Linked DNA regions of Homo sapiens. Changing the gene in region 1 together with any one later gene gives a genetic interaction. Each region holds a gene or a part of one and is shown in the gene's direction. Other genes may lie near its edges.

What was found.
Region 2: changes in SEC31A (region 1) and SEC23IP together harm fitness less than expected from each alone (positive genetic interaction), as found in Homo sapiens cells (one large-scale study listed by BioGRID).
Region 3: changes in SEC31A (region 1) and SLC39A9 together harm fitness more than expected from each alone (negative genetic interaction), as found in Homo sapiens cells (one large-scale study listed by BioGRID).
Region 4: changes in SEC31A (region 1) and TRAPPC10 together harm fitness less than expected from each alone (positive genetic interaction), as found in Homo sapiens cells (one large-scale study listed by BioGRID).

Annotation. Positions count from the first base shown.
Region 1 is NC_000004.12:82,877,650-82,881,156, reverse strand, and holds part of SEC31A (protein transport protein Sec31A), read left to right. Parts: intron 1-234; coding exon 235-358; intron 359-2,228; coding exon 2,229-2,427; intron 2,428-3,507. UniProt on the Homo sapiens protein: Component of the coat protein complex II (COPII) which promotes the formation of transport vesicles from the endoplasmic reticulum (ER).
Region 2 is NC_000010.11:119,902,726-119,906,232, forward strand, and holds part of SEC23IP (SEC23-interacting protein), read left to right. Parts: intron 1-73; coding exon 74-284; intron 285-1,358; coding exon 1,359-1,552; intron 1,553-3,507. UniProt on the Homo sapiens protein: Plays a role in the organization of endoplasmic reticulum exit sites. Specifically binds to phosphatidylinositol 3-phosphate (PI(3)P), phosphatidylinositol 4-phosphate (PI(4)P) and phosphatidylinositol 5-phosphate (PI(5)P).
Region 3 is NC_000014.9:69,401,688-69,405,194, forward strand, and holds part of SLC39A9 (zinc transporter ZIP9), read left to right. Parts: intron 1-3,507. UniProt on the Homo sapiens protein: Transports zinc ions across cell and organelle membranes into the cytoplasm and regulates intracellular zinc homeostasis. Participates in the zinc ions efflux out of the secretory compartments.
Region 4 is NC_000021.9:44,018,805-44,022,311, forward strand, and holds part of TRAPPC10 (trafficking protein particle complex subunit 10), read left to right. Parts: intron 1-3,507. UniProt on the Homo sapiens protein: Specific subunit of the TRAPP (transport protein particle) II complex, a highly conserved vesicle tethering complex that functions in late Golgi trafficking as a membrane tether.

The DNA of each region.
Region 1 (3,507 bases):
TTTTTAAATATATACAGGCTTAAAAAATTATTTACACTACCCACTCTTATAAACATCCTCTCCTAGCCCTGTGCCAGAATCTCATTGCTATAGTAATTTAAGCATCTGCTCAATGGCATATGTGCAGCATTCATGAGCAAGAGAATGGAAAACATGCTTTTAACTTCTGTTTTGTATGGTTTCTCTGATCTTTTATTTTTGTGTGTATAGTTACCATAAATATATTTTCTATAGGAACATCTGCTCAGCAATTGGATGCAACATTTAGTACGAATGCTTCCCTTGAGATATTTGAATTAGACCTCTCTGATCCATCCTTGGATATGAAATCTTGTGCCACATTCTCCTCTTCTCACAGGTATGAGGTTCAGCTTTAAATTCATGTGATTATTTAATTATATATTGTTCTTGATTCCTAATTTGTCTATAATTATGCCATTATTAGAAACTACAAGGAATACCATCAAGAACATGAAATATTTTGTGAAAAAGCATGTGAGTGAATTTTTATGGAAGTAAAAGTAGTGTTTATGTGTTCTATTGACTTTTTTTTTTCTTTTTTTTTTTTGAGACAGAATCTTACTTCATAGCTCAGGCTGGAGTGCAGTGGCACGATCTCGGCTCACTGCAACCTCCACCTTCCAGGCTCAAGCAATTCTTGTGCCTCAGCCTCCCGAGTAGCTGGGATTACAGGTGCACACCACCTTGCCCAGCTAATTTTGTGTCTTTAGTAGCGACAGGGTTTTGCCATGTTGGCCAGGCTGGTTTTGAACTCTTGACCTCAAGCAATCCACCCACCTTAGCCTCCCAAAGTGCTGAGATTATAGGCATGAGGAATCACGCTTGGCCAGTATGTTCTGTTGGCTTTTTTATTGCTGTTACATGTAAGGTAGGAAGGAGAGGCTGTAGTTTCTAGCATTTTTTTCTGTTTTTTTGGTGTGTGTGTGGTTTTTTTTGTTTTTGTTTTTTTTTTGAGATGGAGTTTCACTCTTGTTGCCCAGGCTGGAGTGCAATGGCGCAATCTCGGCTCACCACAACCTCTGCCTCCTAGGTTCTAGCAATTCTCCTGCCTCAGCCTCCCGAGTAGCTGGGATTACAGGCATGTGCCACCATGCCTGGCTAATTTTGTATAGAGTTCTTTTTTCTATCTCCTTTATTGTGCCTGTTTACAAAAAGGTAGATGTGACTAGAAAAGGAGTAGTCATCGTAAGTATTAATAGTGATTATCTCTGAATGGTAGCTTATTTTTATTTTCTTCTGTTACGATATTTAGAAATATATCTCACAGTTTTGTTGACACGATTTCTAATACACTAGGTAACTAGGTATTTGGATCATACTTTCAAGTACTTATGCCCTATTGTAATGCAGAGAAAGGAGGTCTTCATTTCAGTAATAAAATAAGCTTTATTGCCTCAATATATTAGCAGGGTTTAAAGAGATTGCTCTTTAGCTGACAGAATATAGCTCAAATCATGCAGTTTCATGGGACCGCTCATATTCTTCAGAGCTGTCACAGTGGGATGGGAACCCCAGATACCTTTTGTCTAGTAGTTTTTCTGCTTACTACCATCTGTATCATCGTATACCTTTCTGCCTTCATATTTCATCTCCATTCTGGACCATATATTTTATTCTCTAATAGTAGGGGTACTTGTTATAATCTTGATGTCATTTTTCTACCATTAGAATACATTCTTTTTCTTAGAAAATTTCACATGACTCCTTTAACACCTTTACTATTTAACAGACCACTTGTTAGTGACCCCCCCTTTTTTTTTTTTTCAGACAAAGGTCAAAGCATGAGACCCTTCTATAGTCAAATAAAGAGTGTTTTTACCTTTCGAGGGAAGTGATTGATTAGCTCTATTTTACAATGAACCAGAGGCAATTTAAGAAGATTAAGTAACTTAGGGTCTCACAGTTTCTAAATGGTAAAATCATTCTTAAGCTCATATTTTTTGACACACAACTCAAGTATATTTTGTTACACTACCTTACAAGAGTTTTTACTCTTTAAGGATTACAAAATCACATATGCAAATATGAGTATAAATAAAAAATGAAATACTATTACACCAAAGTCATACATAGTTACCAGGAGTGGTGGGAAAGTAATATATTTGGATTGTTTATGAAAACATTAAAAATTAAGTGTATAATTTCAATTTTTTGTCTACATTTATTTGACTTTAAGAATGAATGATTTTATTCATTTTCTCCTGTAGGTACCACAAGTTGATTTGGGGGCCTTATAAAATGGATTCCAAAGGAGATGTCTCTGGAGTTCTGATTGCAGGTGGTGAAAATGGAAATATTATTCTCTATGATCCTTCTAAAATTATAGCTGGAGACAAGGAAGTTGTGATTGCCCAGAATGACAAGCATACTGGCCCAGTGAGAGCCTTGGATGTGAACATTTTCCAGGTTAAGACTTTAACATTTCATAATTCTTAGACTATGTGCTGCTCATTTGAAATCAGTATATGAATCTACTATGCCTCAGTTTTGGAATTGAAAGTTAAAAAACTGTGGCTATACAGGTTGACGAGTGTTTGTTTAAAGAATGGTGGGTTCAGAGTTGAGATCAGGGTTAAAAATACTACCTCCATGAAAAGGATCCGGCTGATAGGTTTTTGTTTTTGTTTTTGTTTTTGTTTTTTTGAGACGGAGTCTCGCTCTGTCACCAGGCTGGAGTGCAGTGGCATGATCTTGGCTCACTGCAACCTCTGCCTCCTGGGTTCAAGTGATTCTCCTGCCTCAGCCTCCCGAGTAGCTGGGATTACAGGCGCCTGCCACCACGCCCAGCTAATTTTTGTACTTTTAGTAGAGATGGGGTTTCACCATGTTGGCCAGAATGGTCTCGATCTCTTGACCTTGTGATCCGCCCGCCTCGGCCTCCCAAAGTGCTGGGATTACAGACGTGAGCCACTGTGCCCAGCTGGCTAATAGGTTTAAGTCTGAAGATGTCACGCCATTTGATTAGACATTTTATAAACATTAAGATCCCTATAGGTTGGAAACCTTGCCTTTTAAAAGTTCATGCTAGGTCAGCATTAGGCTGGTGCTGTGATGTCCAGGTTAATTCACTGTTTTATTAATTGAGAAATTTTATGTTTATGACAGAGATTAATACTCTATGAAATAATTAGAAATTAAATGTAATGGCTGGGCATGTGGCTCACACCTGTGTAATCCCAGCACTTTGAGAGGCCGAGGCAGACAGATCATGAGGTCAGGAGTTCGAGACCAGCCTGGCCAACGTGGTGAAACCCCGTCTCTACTAAAAATACAAAAATTAGCCGGGCATGGTGGCAGGCACCTGTAATCCCAGCTATTCGGGAGTCTGAGGCAGGAGAATCGCTTGAACCCGGGAGGCGGAGATCGCAGTGAGTTGAGATCGTGCCATTGCACTCCAGCCTGGGCAACGAGCAAAACTCAAAAAAAGAAAAAAGAAATGTAATGCAGATTTAACAAATAGTCAATTAAGATTCTTTGTACTGTTGC
Region 2 (3,507 bases), on another chromosome or scaffold:
CAGTTTGGGTGTGAAGCATATTCAGAATTCTTTTGGACAAGCATGACAGTCTTAACTTTGCCGTCCCCTCCAGGTTCCTTCTTCAGTGCAGTCACCGGCACAGCAGCAGGTACCTGCCAGACCTGGGGCTCCCTCTGTTCAAGTGCCATCTCCTTTTCTACTTCAAAACCAATATGAGCCTGTTCAGCCCCACTGGTTTTACTGCAAGGAGGTAGAATACAAACAACTGTGGATGCCTTTTAGTGTGTTCGACTCTTTGAATCTTGAAGAAATCTATAATTCAGGTAAACATTGGTCATACATCATTCATATCTGATTTTAGGAAGAGAAGGAATGAGATCATTTATTCATGATCTATTTTCTGTGAATGTCAAATACCTTAATCCTTATAGACCCCAGACTCTGTACCTTAAGGTGACGATATTAGTATAAGTCCTGAGTTACCTGGGTAAGGTATTTGAAGAAATGTTTTAGTAATTTACTTCGTAGTTTAAAGGTATTTTGAATCAGAGAAGTTGAGCAGTTCATATAATCCAGGTTTCAATTTTTCTGTTTCCCTTGTTCATTTGTAGTTATGGGGGCATTTATAAAGGGCATTCTGTGGAACTCTCTATCCTGGAGATGCTCTGTGAAAAAAGGGTTCCCTGGTCAGATGAGTTTTGGAAATGCTGCTCTCTGTATCTAGGTCTTGAGAGAGATGGTGTGCAGGAGTACATTAATGCTTTGAGAAGTCCTGCAGTGTAGAAATGTGTTTCTTTGTTTATCCTGATATATTATTATATCACTGTATTATTGTATGTAGATATTATTGTTCTGATAAAAAAAATCCATCAGTTCTTTGAATTATGTTTTTAAAGTTTGCCCTAGCTGTTTCTTTTCTACTTAAGAGTCATAATTTTGAGCAGCACAGATTAATCTTAAACTTCTATTTTGAAATAAAAATGAGCCTAGTTTTTTGTCTTTAAAGATTGAGTAGTCACCGTATTCATTATTTATTATTTCATTTTTATTTTCTTGAGACAGAGTCTCACTCTGCTGCCCAGGCTGGAGAGCAGTAGCGCAATCTGGACTCACTGCAACCTCTGCTTCTTGGGTTCAAACTACTATGCCTCAGCCTCCCAAGTAGCTGGGATTATAGGCGTGTGCCACCACGCCTGGCTAATTGTTGTATTTTTAGTAGACAGGGAGGTTTCACCATTGGCCAGGCTGGTCTCAAACTCCTGACCGCAAGTGATCCACCTCTCTCGGCCTCCCAGGGTGCTGGGATTACAGGCATGAGCCACTGCGCCCAGCAGATTATTTATTATTTTACAATATGCCTTGCAGCAGTTAGGAAAAGTGTTAATTTTGTTCTCTAGTTCAGCCAGATCCGGAGAGCGTGGTTCTTGGCACGGATGGAGGGCGCTACGATGTTTACCTCTATGACCGAATAAGGAAGGCTGCCTACTGGGAAGAGGAGCCAGCCGAAGTGAGACGCTGTACTTGGTTTTACAAGGGGGACACAGATAGTCGATTTATTCCCTATACTGAGGAGTTCAGTGAAAAACTAGAGGTACGGGTGCTTTATTTCTTTATGAGTTTCTTTAAAAAATGTAGGTCCTATATACATTGGTGAGTAACATCATTCACAGTGGAGCGGACTTTACTTACAAGACAGCTTGTTTTGATGCTGTTCACAGAGAAGATTACTTTTTAAGTGGTGTCATCACTCATGAGGTGCTAATCGTGGCATCTGTGTCTAAAGATAGAATATGATTTGCAGAGACACATCACAGATCTAATAAGGTGCTTGTGTCAAGCCTTCAATAGAACCTAGGCCGCTGGGATTTGTTGTTGATAGAAGATGCCAAGCATATGGACATTTTCAAATTAGTATTCAGTAAAAGGCTTGAAATTAACCTCTGATTTGTGAAAATAAATAAATAGAATTGGAAGAAGTGTCTTGAGTCTTATTAGCCATCTTAAATCTATAATTTCTTCAAGAAATTATATGTTGTTTTATATAATTGTGTTAAATGCTTGTGTTAATTCTACTTAAGAGTTGAATGTTAGATATTTGAAATACGTTCAGTGAATTCAGTTGCATAGATAGGAAATGAGATACAGAACATTTTAGTTAACTTCTGGCTGGGTGTGGTGGCTCGTGCCTATAATCCCAGCACTATGGGAGGCCTAGGTGAGCAGATCACTTGAGGCCAGGAGTTTTGAGACCAGCCTGACCAACATGGCGAAACCATGTCTCTACTAAAAATACAAAAACTAGCCAGGCGTGGTGGCACACGCTAGTAGTCCGAGCTACTCGGGAGGCTGAAGAGGAAGGATCACCTGTGCCAGGGAAGTTGAGGCTGCAGGGAGCTGAGATCATGCCACTGCACTCCAGCCTGGGCAATGGGAATGAGACCCTTCCTCAGAAAAAAAAAAAGTATATATTTGTATATGTGCATATATGTGTGTGTGTATATATATAAAGAAAAAAGTGTAAAGGAATGCTGATATCTATAGCTTAATTTTAGATATAAATAAACAAATAAAGATATATTGTAATTTTTGGTACCTTTTTGGTAGGCCCCTACGAAGCTATCATGTCCCCAGATTAAATGTTTAGTTTTACTATTTTGAAGCTGAAGTATATATTTTCAAGTCCAAGCAGTGTCTGAAAGTCTACACTTTCTCTTAACTATATTTGATTTTATATGGGTGACATAGACTTTGAAGCGGGATAGATATCCACATACTGACCACTGCAGCAACACATGGCTACCTAGGGAGACCTTAGCTTTTGTTCGGCTTCTTCCAGGAAACTCAAACCAGATCAGGGAAGAGGCAGAGGAGGTTAGGAAGTGAGAAAGCCGATAATAGAAAGGGAACAAAATGATACGTATTGCTCAGCATCCTGTTGGTGATCCTCTTCTGTCAGAGCACTAAGACAAAACAACGGAAGGGTTGGAGACAGAGAACACCTTTAATTTGATGAAGACATGATTATTGTCTACGTGGAAAATCAGGAGAACCTCTAGAAATATTAGCACCAATACAAGAGTTTTTTTGCAAGTCCGTGTATATAAAATTAACATACGTAAATTAGTAACATTCCTGTGCCATAGAAATAACCAATTAAAAATAGAAAAAGAAGATACTATGTATTTATAACAGAGAGACTATATATTTATAAAACTACAGGCAATGTAGGAAAAAAGCCCAAGAAAAGTACCGGTAAACTTTATGGAACACTGAAGAACGTAAAAGGTGACCTCAAGAAATGGAGCTAGGCTGGGCGTGGTGGCTCCTGCCTGTAATCCCAGCACTCTGGGAGGCCAAGGTGGGTGGGTTGCTTCAGCTCAGGAGTTCCAGACCAGCCTGGACAACATGGAAAAACCCCGTCTCTACAAAAAATACACACAAAAAAATTAGCTGGGCATGGTGGCCCATGCCTGTGGTCTTAGCTACTCAGGAGGCAGAGGCAGTAGGATTGCTTGAGCCTGGGATCTTGAGGCTGCAGTGAACTGT
Region 3 (3,507 bases), on another chromosome or scaffold:
CATGTCATTTGTGGCTTTCTTAAATTGACGGTCAGATGGTCTTTTCCAGCTGTAGGTCTTAAAATGCTAAAATCAGCATTCATAATATCTGTTTATTATTAGAGTAGATGCAATGCATTTTGAGCTATTAGAATAAAAAATGAAAGTTATATATAACTTAAAGACATCCTAGAATTCAACTAGGATTTCTATCTCCTAGGAACTAAACATATTTTCTAGGTAAATTATGCCATTATTATGGACCAATGTTGTAATGAAACTAGTGAGATGGTAAATTTGTAAAAATAAATTTCATTCACGGGGGACTGGAAAGCACCATTTCTTTCCTTAGAAAATAATTCCCCAAACTCCTACACTGGATAAATGACTTGCCTTTTTAAGGAAGTCTGGCTTTCTTAGAGGCTAGTGTTACTGTTTTACAGTTCACTTTCGTTTACATCAGGGGTGTCCAATCTTTTGGCTTCCCTGGGCCACATCAGAAGAAGAATTATCTCAAGCCACACATAAAATACACTAACACTAAGATAGGTGATGAGCTAAAAAAAAAAAATGCAAAAAAAAACTCATAATGTTTTAAGAAAGTTTATGAATTTGTGTAAGGCTTCATTCAAAGTGCTCCTGGGTTGCATGCGGCCCACGAGCCATGAGTTGGACAAGCTTGATTTACATGAAAAGATATGCTTTTTATTCATGTTTTTAATCTTGCTGCTGCTTTCTCATTCAATACTTTTTCTAAAAATATCTCAGAACAGGAATAAAAGTCAGATGATCAATTATGGCAAGATTAGTATTTAAAAACGAGTTAAAATTAGGTAGTCTGAAATTGCAGTAGTGGTGGGGTCTACCTGCCAGATGTGCCCACCAAGAGGTTTATGTGACATTGATTTCTCTGTCAGTTTCTCCTCACCCCAAAACTACCTTTCTTGATACTTTTGTGGCCTTCTTCCTTGCCCTTTGACCTGGCAACTGTACTTTCATGCCTTAAAAATTTATAAAACAAAGGAAAAAAAATCCGATTCTCAAATGCAATTATAAGTAACTATGATAATCAGGATGTAAATTTTTTCAGTATACAGGAAAGAGAAACACTTTTAACTTTTAAAGGAGGCCAGCCAGGTGCTAAGTGGCTCACGCCTGTAATCCCAGCACTTTGGGAGGCTGAGGTGGGCGGATTACCTGAGGTCAGGAGTTCGAGACCAGCCTGGCCAACATGGCGAAACCCCATCTCTACTAAAAATACAAAAATTAGCTGGGCGTGGTGGCATGTGCCTGTAATCCCAGCTACTCAGGAGGCTGAGACAGGAGAATTGCTTGAACCCAGGAGGCGGAGGTTGCAGTGAGCCGAGTCCCACCATTGCACTCCAGCCTGGGGAACAAGAGCAAAACTTTGTCTCAGAAAAAAATAAAAATAAATAAATAAAAATAAATAAATAAAGGAGGCCAAAGCATGCTTTACACAAAGGAAGCCCTGTTTGGTAAGGGAGTGAGACCCGTTGGTTTATAGTTAACACTGTCTTATGTTTTTTCGATTGAATTGCTAATGAGTAGTTTTCTTTGGCTCTAAATAACAATGTTACATAAGTAGGTTGAGAGCCTATATTACCTAGTATAAACTCAGTGCTGCTGCAGTTGATAAATGGAGCTATGATACAAAAACAGATGGCTCAAGTGGGATTTCAGATTGATTATCTGAGGGTTGTTACTCACCTGAGTATGTCTCCTCTTTGTCACAGAGCTGGTAACAGAGAGCAAGCTGTTTTTGGCTCAGAGCTCTACAGCAATATTCCTCAAACTGCCTGGTAAAGGATCAGTTTTTGTTTTTAATTTTTATTTCAATCCATACCAATACACTTATAAAAATGAAATAGTAGGAAAATGAAGTGAAAAAAAGACATAGAAAATACAAGCCCAAATGTATTGTTAAATTCAACAGATAAAAAATTACTACTATAATTGTAATAATCATATTGCTCTAAAAATTTCTGAAGGCTTTATCTCAGTTGCCATACTTTTCTTATTGCAGACCAGTTTGAGTTATAATGCCACATTTTTCATGTATTAAAACAGCAAAGCAGGCCAGGCGTGGTGGCTCACGCCTGTAATCCCAGCACTTTGGGAGGCCGAGGCAGGCGAATCATCTGAGGTCGGGAGTTCGAGACCACCCTGACCAACACGGAGAAACCCTGTGTCTACTGAAAATACAAAATTATTTGGGCGTGGTGGCACGTGCCTGTAATCCCAGCTACTTGGGGGGCTGAGGCAGGAGAATCGCTTGAACCTGGGAGGCGGAGGTTGCAGTGAACCAACATTGCGCCATTGCACTCCAGCCTGGGCAGCAAGAGCAAAACTCCCTCTCAAAAAAACAAAAAACAAACAAACAAAAACAGCAAAACTGGATGTAGTGGCACACACTGGTTAGTCCCAGCTACTCCAAATGCTGATGTGGGAGGATCACTTGAGCCCAGGAGTTCAGGGTTGCAGTGAGCTATGAGTGTGCCTGTGAATAGCCACTGGCAACATAAGGAGACCTACTCCCTAAAATAACCAACAGCATAAATCCATAAGTTGGCAGATGAAAGTAGTGCTATTCTTAGGATGATTTTAAAGATGAATATGATTAATAATGCACTGATTTCAAAAGGGACTGTCTGAGACAGTATCATTCAAAGTCAATGTTACTACTTGAACAAGCTATTAAAATCCAAATCTCTTCTGTTAAATGACCTTCTAGGATTGTTGTGAGGTTGAAATAATATAAGCACAGGCTTAACACTATGTCTAGAACATAATAAAAACTTTCAAAAATATTGAGGCAGATTCTCAATACTGATTAGAAAAACTTGTAAAGATTTTCATTTTTATAACTTTGTTCTAATTTATAATTGTTAAACCTTTTATTTGGAAACAGACTTAATAATGGGAAGCTCCTCCCCCTCCTCCCCTTCGCAGTCATGGAAACTTCTCGGCAATTTGTTTGGAATCCAAAGGTCTTGTTGTGGGGTTTGGTTTGCATTACTATTTACCATTCTATTTGGAGAGGCCAGGGCTTTTCCTCTACCCTCCCTGCTTTATACTATTTTTCTTAGTATTTAACTCTCTTTTCTTCATTATACTTACTCTCATTTTAAGCTTTGTTTTGTTCTTTCGTGTTTTAAAGTTTTGTGTCTGTATTAGTCCATTCTTACACTGCTAATAAAGACATTTCTGAGACTGGGTAATTTATAAACGAAAGAGGTTTGATTGACTCACAATTCAGCATAGCTGGGGAGGCCTAAGGAAACTTACAATCATGGCAGAAGAGGAGGCAAACACATCCTTCTTCATGGGGCGGCAGGATGGAGAAGTGCTGAGCAAAAGGGGGAAAGCCCCTTATAAAACCATCAGATCTCGTGAGAACTCACTGTCACAAGAACAGCAAGAACTCACTATCACAAGAACAGCATGACCTCCCACCAGGTCCCTCGCATGGGAACTACAACTCAAGATGAGATTTGGGTGGGGACACAA
Region 4 (3,507 bases), on another chromosome or scaffold:
GCTCACTCTGGCTGAGTTGGTTATCTTTTAATGGAAATACAAATAACTGACTTAAGGATTTTTTTGTCGTAGGAAAGTTTGTTGCCAGTTGACAGAGTGTCTTCCCTGGAGTCGCATGCCTTAGTGTGTAAGTGTGTGGTCTCCAAAGGTATTGCACACTGATCTCCAAGTACTGACCCTCCCACCCCCGTGCTCCACTCTAGACCTGGTGGCTTTAGATCTGGAGTTAGAGACCAGCAACGGCAGAAGATTACAGGGTCTTTTTTTTTTAAGACATGGTCTCACTGTGTCGCCCAGACTGGAGTGCAGTGGCATGATCTCGGCTCACTGCAGCCTTGACCTCCTGGGGTCAGGTGATTCTCCCACCTCAATCTCCCGAGTAGCTGCTTGTGTGCCACCATGCCCAGTTAATTTTTTGTATTTTCAGTAGAGATGGGGTTTCGCCATGTTGCCCAGGCACGTTTTGAACTCCTGGATTCAAGCAATCCGCCCTCTTTGGCCTCCCAAAGTGCTGGGATTACAGGCATAAGCCACTGTGCCCAGACAGCTGCAGGGTCTTAAACAGTCAAAACATTCCCACCTCAGTGCCTGCCTCTGTGGTGGGTTGCCTCAGAGCTTCCTGTGGCTTCCTGTCCTGTGTCTCACCTTCTTTCTTCCTCAAATCTTTCCTCTATCTGCTCTTAATGTCAAATATAGTCACAGTATTTTGGCCTTAGAGAATATTTGTTTTTAAATTAAAAATTGATAACCTTGGAGTCATTTATGACTTCTTTTTTCTCTCACAACTGACATTATCTTTGAAATATATCTAGAATCCAGCTATATATAGGGCCTGCCTGGATAATCTGGGATAATCACATCTTGAGCTCCTGAACTTAATTAAGTCTACAAAGACCCCTTTCCCAAATAAGGTGACATTCACAGGTTTTGAGGGTTAGGATGTTGTGGGGCACCATGCCACCTGCCGCACCACTGTCTGTGTTAGCTACCAAGCGCGCAGTGGCCGGCATTCATCAAGCGTCTTTGGTTTTAGACAGCTGCGTCTGTCTTTGGAGGTTTGTCCTTCGTGTACTCCTGACCGAGGGAATGTTATCTTGACATTTGGGCTTCTGGGTTCTAGATGTGGTTACAAGGTGGGGTGATCCCTTCTTAGGAAAAGTCCAGCCTCTTCTGTGCTCTCTCCCTTATGTGGCTTTTTGGACATTTGTTACATGGTGTTTAATTTCTGAATATTATTTTAGGCCCCTGTTTGCAATTTTTTTTTTTTAACAGTGACCAGGGACCATTCCATTGTATGTTTGGACATTTTTCTTTTCTTTTCTTTTTTTTTTTTTGAGACAGAGTCTCGCTCTATTGCCCAGGCTGGAGTGCAGTGGCGTGATCTCGGCTTACTGCAAGCTCCGACTCCGCCTCCTGGGTTCACGCTATTCTCCTGCCTCAGCCTCCCGAGTAGCTGGGACTACAGGCGCCCACCACCACACCTGGCTAATTTTTTTGTATTTTTAGTAAGGATGGAGTTCACCGTGTTAGCCAGGATGGTCTCGATCTCCTGACCTTGTGATCTGCCCGCCTCGGCCTCTCAAAGTGCTGGATTACAGGCATGAGCCACCGCGCCTGGCCCATTTTTCTTATTTTTAACTGAGATCTGTTAGCAGTTTGAAGCGATTGTATACATTTCAGAGTTAGCTGGGCATGGTGGTGCGTGCTTCTAGTCCTAGCTACTTGGGAGACAGGCCAGAGGATCGCTTGAGCCCAGGAATTTGAGGCTGCGGTGAGCCATGTTTGTGCCACTTCACTCCAGTCTGGGCGACAGAGTGAGACCCTGTCTCAAAAAACAAAAAACAAAAAAAAACAATTTCAGGGTTGAAATTTTTAGCAGAGCCTTGGAACTGACAACCACCTGTTTGGATAGTAACTTTAACTCAATCTGTAGCTTGCCATTTGTGGGCACTGTCAGTTCACCTAGACCAGTCAGCAAGCTCTAAACATCCAGGTTAATGAGAAGGGCCGTCAGAAGTCATTTTGAAGTTGAGGAGCTGAGGGCTGGTTTTGCTGTGACTGGCCATGATCAGTGTAACTGTTTAGTAGCACAGCTCGGACCAATATTAGCATGTCTGATGACTCCTGCTTTACCAAGTACTTAGGGAAGGCAGACACCATCTGTTCACATGGAAGCAGGGAGTTTGTCCCTAAAATTATGCTTCTGAGAAAGCCTTTGCCATATAATTAAATAAAAATGTCACTTTAGCATTCTAAGAATTGAGTAAGTAAGCTATACACTAGAAATTTTTAGTATAGTCTTATTCCAAAATTAAATTCCTATTCTGAGAACTTGATACCCAGCACTGTCTTTGCTTCTCCTGTAGTCTGTTCTGTCCTTTGGGGATCCTGGGTTGTCTAGTGTGGAGTATGGAGGAGTTGGGCTGTTTTCATCAGTGAGCAAACATTTACGGAGGACCTATTACATGCCAGTTACTGCTGAAGGGGCTTGGGTTATGTCAGAGAGCAAAGATCCCAACCCTTTGAGAGTTTACATTCTGTCAAGAAGAGATAGACAATAGACAAATAATGTTAGGTGACAAGTGCTATGGAAAAAAGAAAAAGAGAAGGATAAGGGAAATGGAAGAACTGTAACATTTCACATATTTTATTATAAAAGTGCAATATGTATCAAAGTAGACAGAATATTATAAAGAGACCCTACAAACCTTTCACCCAACTACAGCAATTAGGTGAACTGCCCAATCTTGCTTCTCTATACCCCTCATTCTCCCCAGTCTTATATTATTTTGAAGCAAATCTCAGACATATAATTTATCCACGAATGGATGTTATGGACTGAACATTTGTGTCCCTCCCTACACACCGAAGCCCTGACTCCCAGTGTGCTAAGAATAGGAGATGGGCCTTTGAGAAGTACCAGGGCTAGATGAGGTCAGGAGGGTGGGCCCTTTATTATTGGATTAGATGAGGAAGAGTGAGAGGACACCTCCCCCTTGAAACGAGGAAAGGCCACCTGAGGATAACAGCAAGGAAGTGGCTGTCTGCAGTCTGTAACACAGGCCTCACCAGAAACCTAATCTACTGACACCTTGATCTCGGGCTTCTTGACCTACAGAGCTATGAGAAAATACATTGCGATTTTTTTTTTCTTTCTTAGGGTCTTTTCAGAGAGAAAACAAAAAACTGTTTTCTAAGCCACCCAGTCTATGGCATTTTTTTTTCTTTTTAAAAATTTCTTTCTTTTTTTTTTTCTTTCATGGTATTTTTTAATTACACCTAAAACGTTTCTTTCTTTCTTTTGTTTTTGTTTTTGTTTTTGAGATGGAGTTTCGCTCTTGTTGCCCAAGCTGGAGTGCAGTGGCACAATCTCAGCTCACTGCAACCTCCGCCTCTCGGGTTCAAGCAACTCTTCTGCCTCAGCTTCCCAAGTAGCTGGGATTACAGGCACATGGCACCATGCCTGGCTAAATTTTTTTTTTTTTTTTTTTTTTTTGAGATGGAATT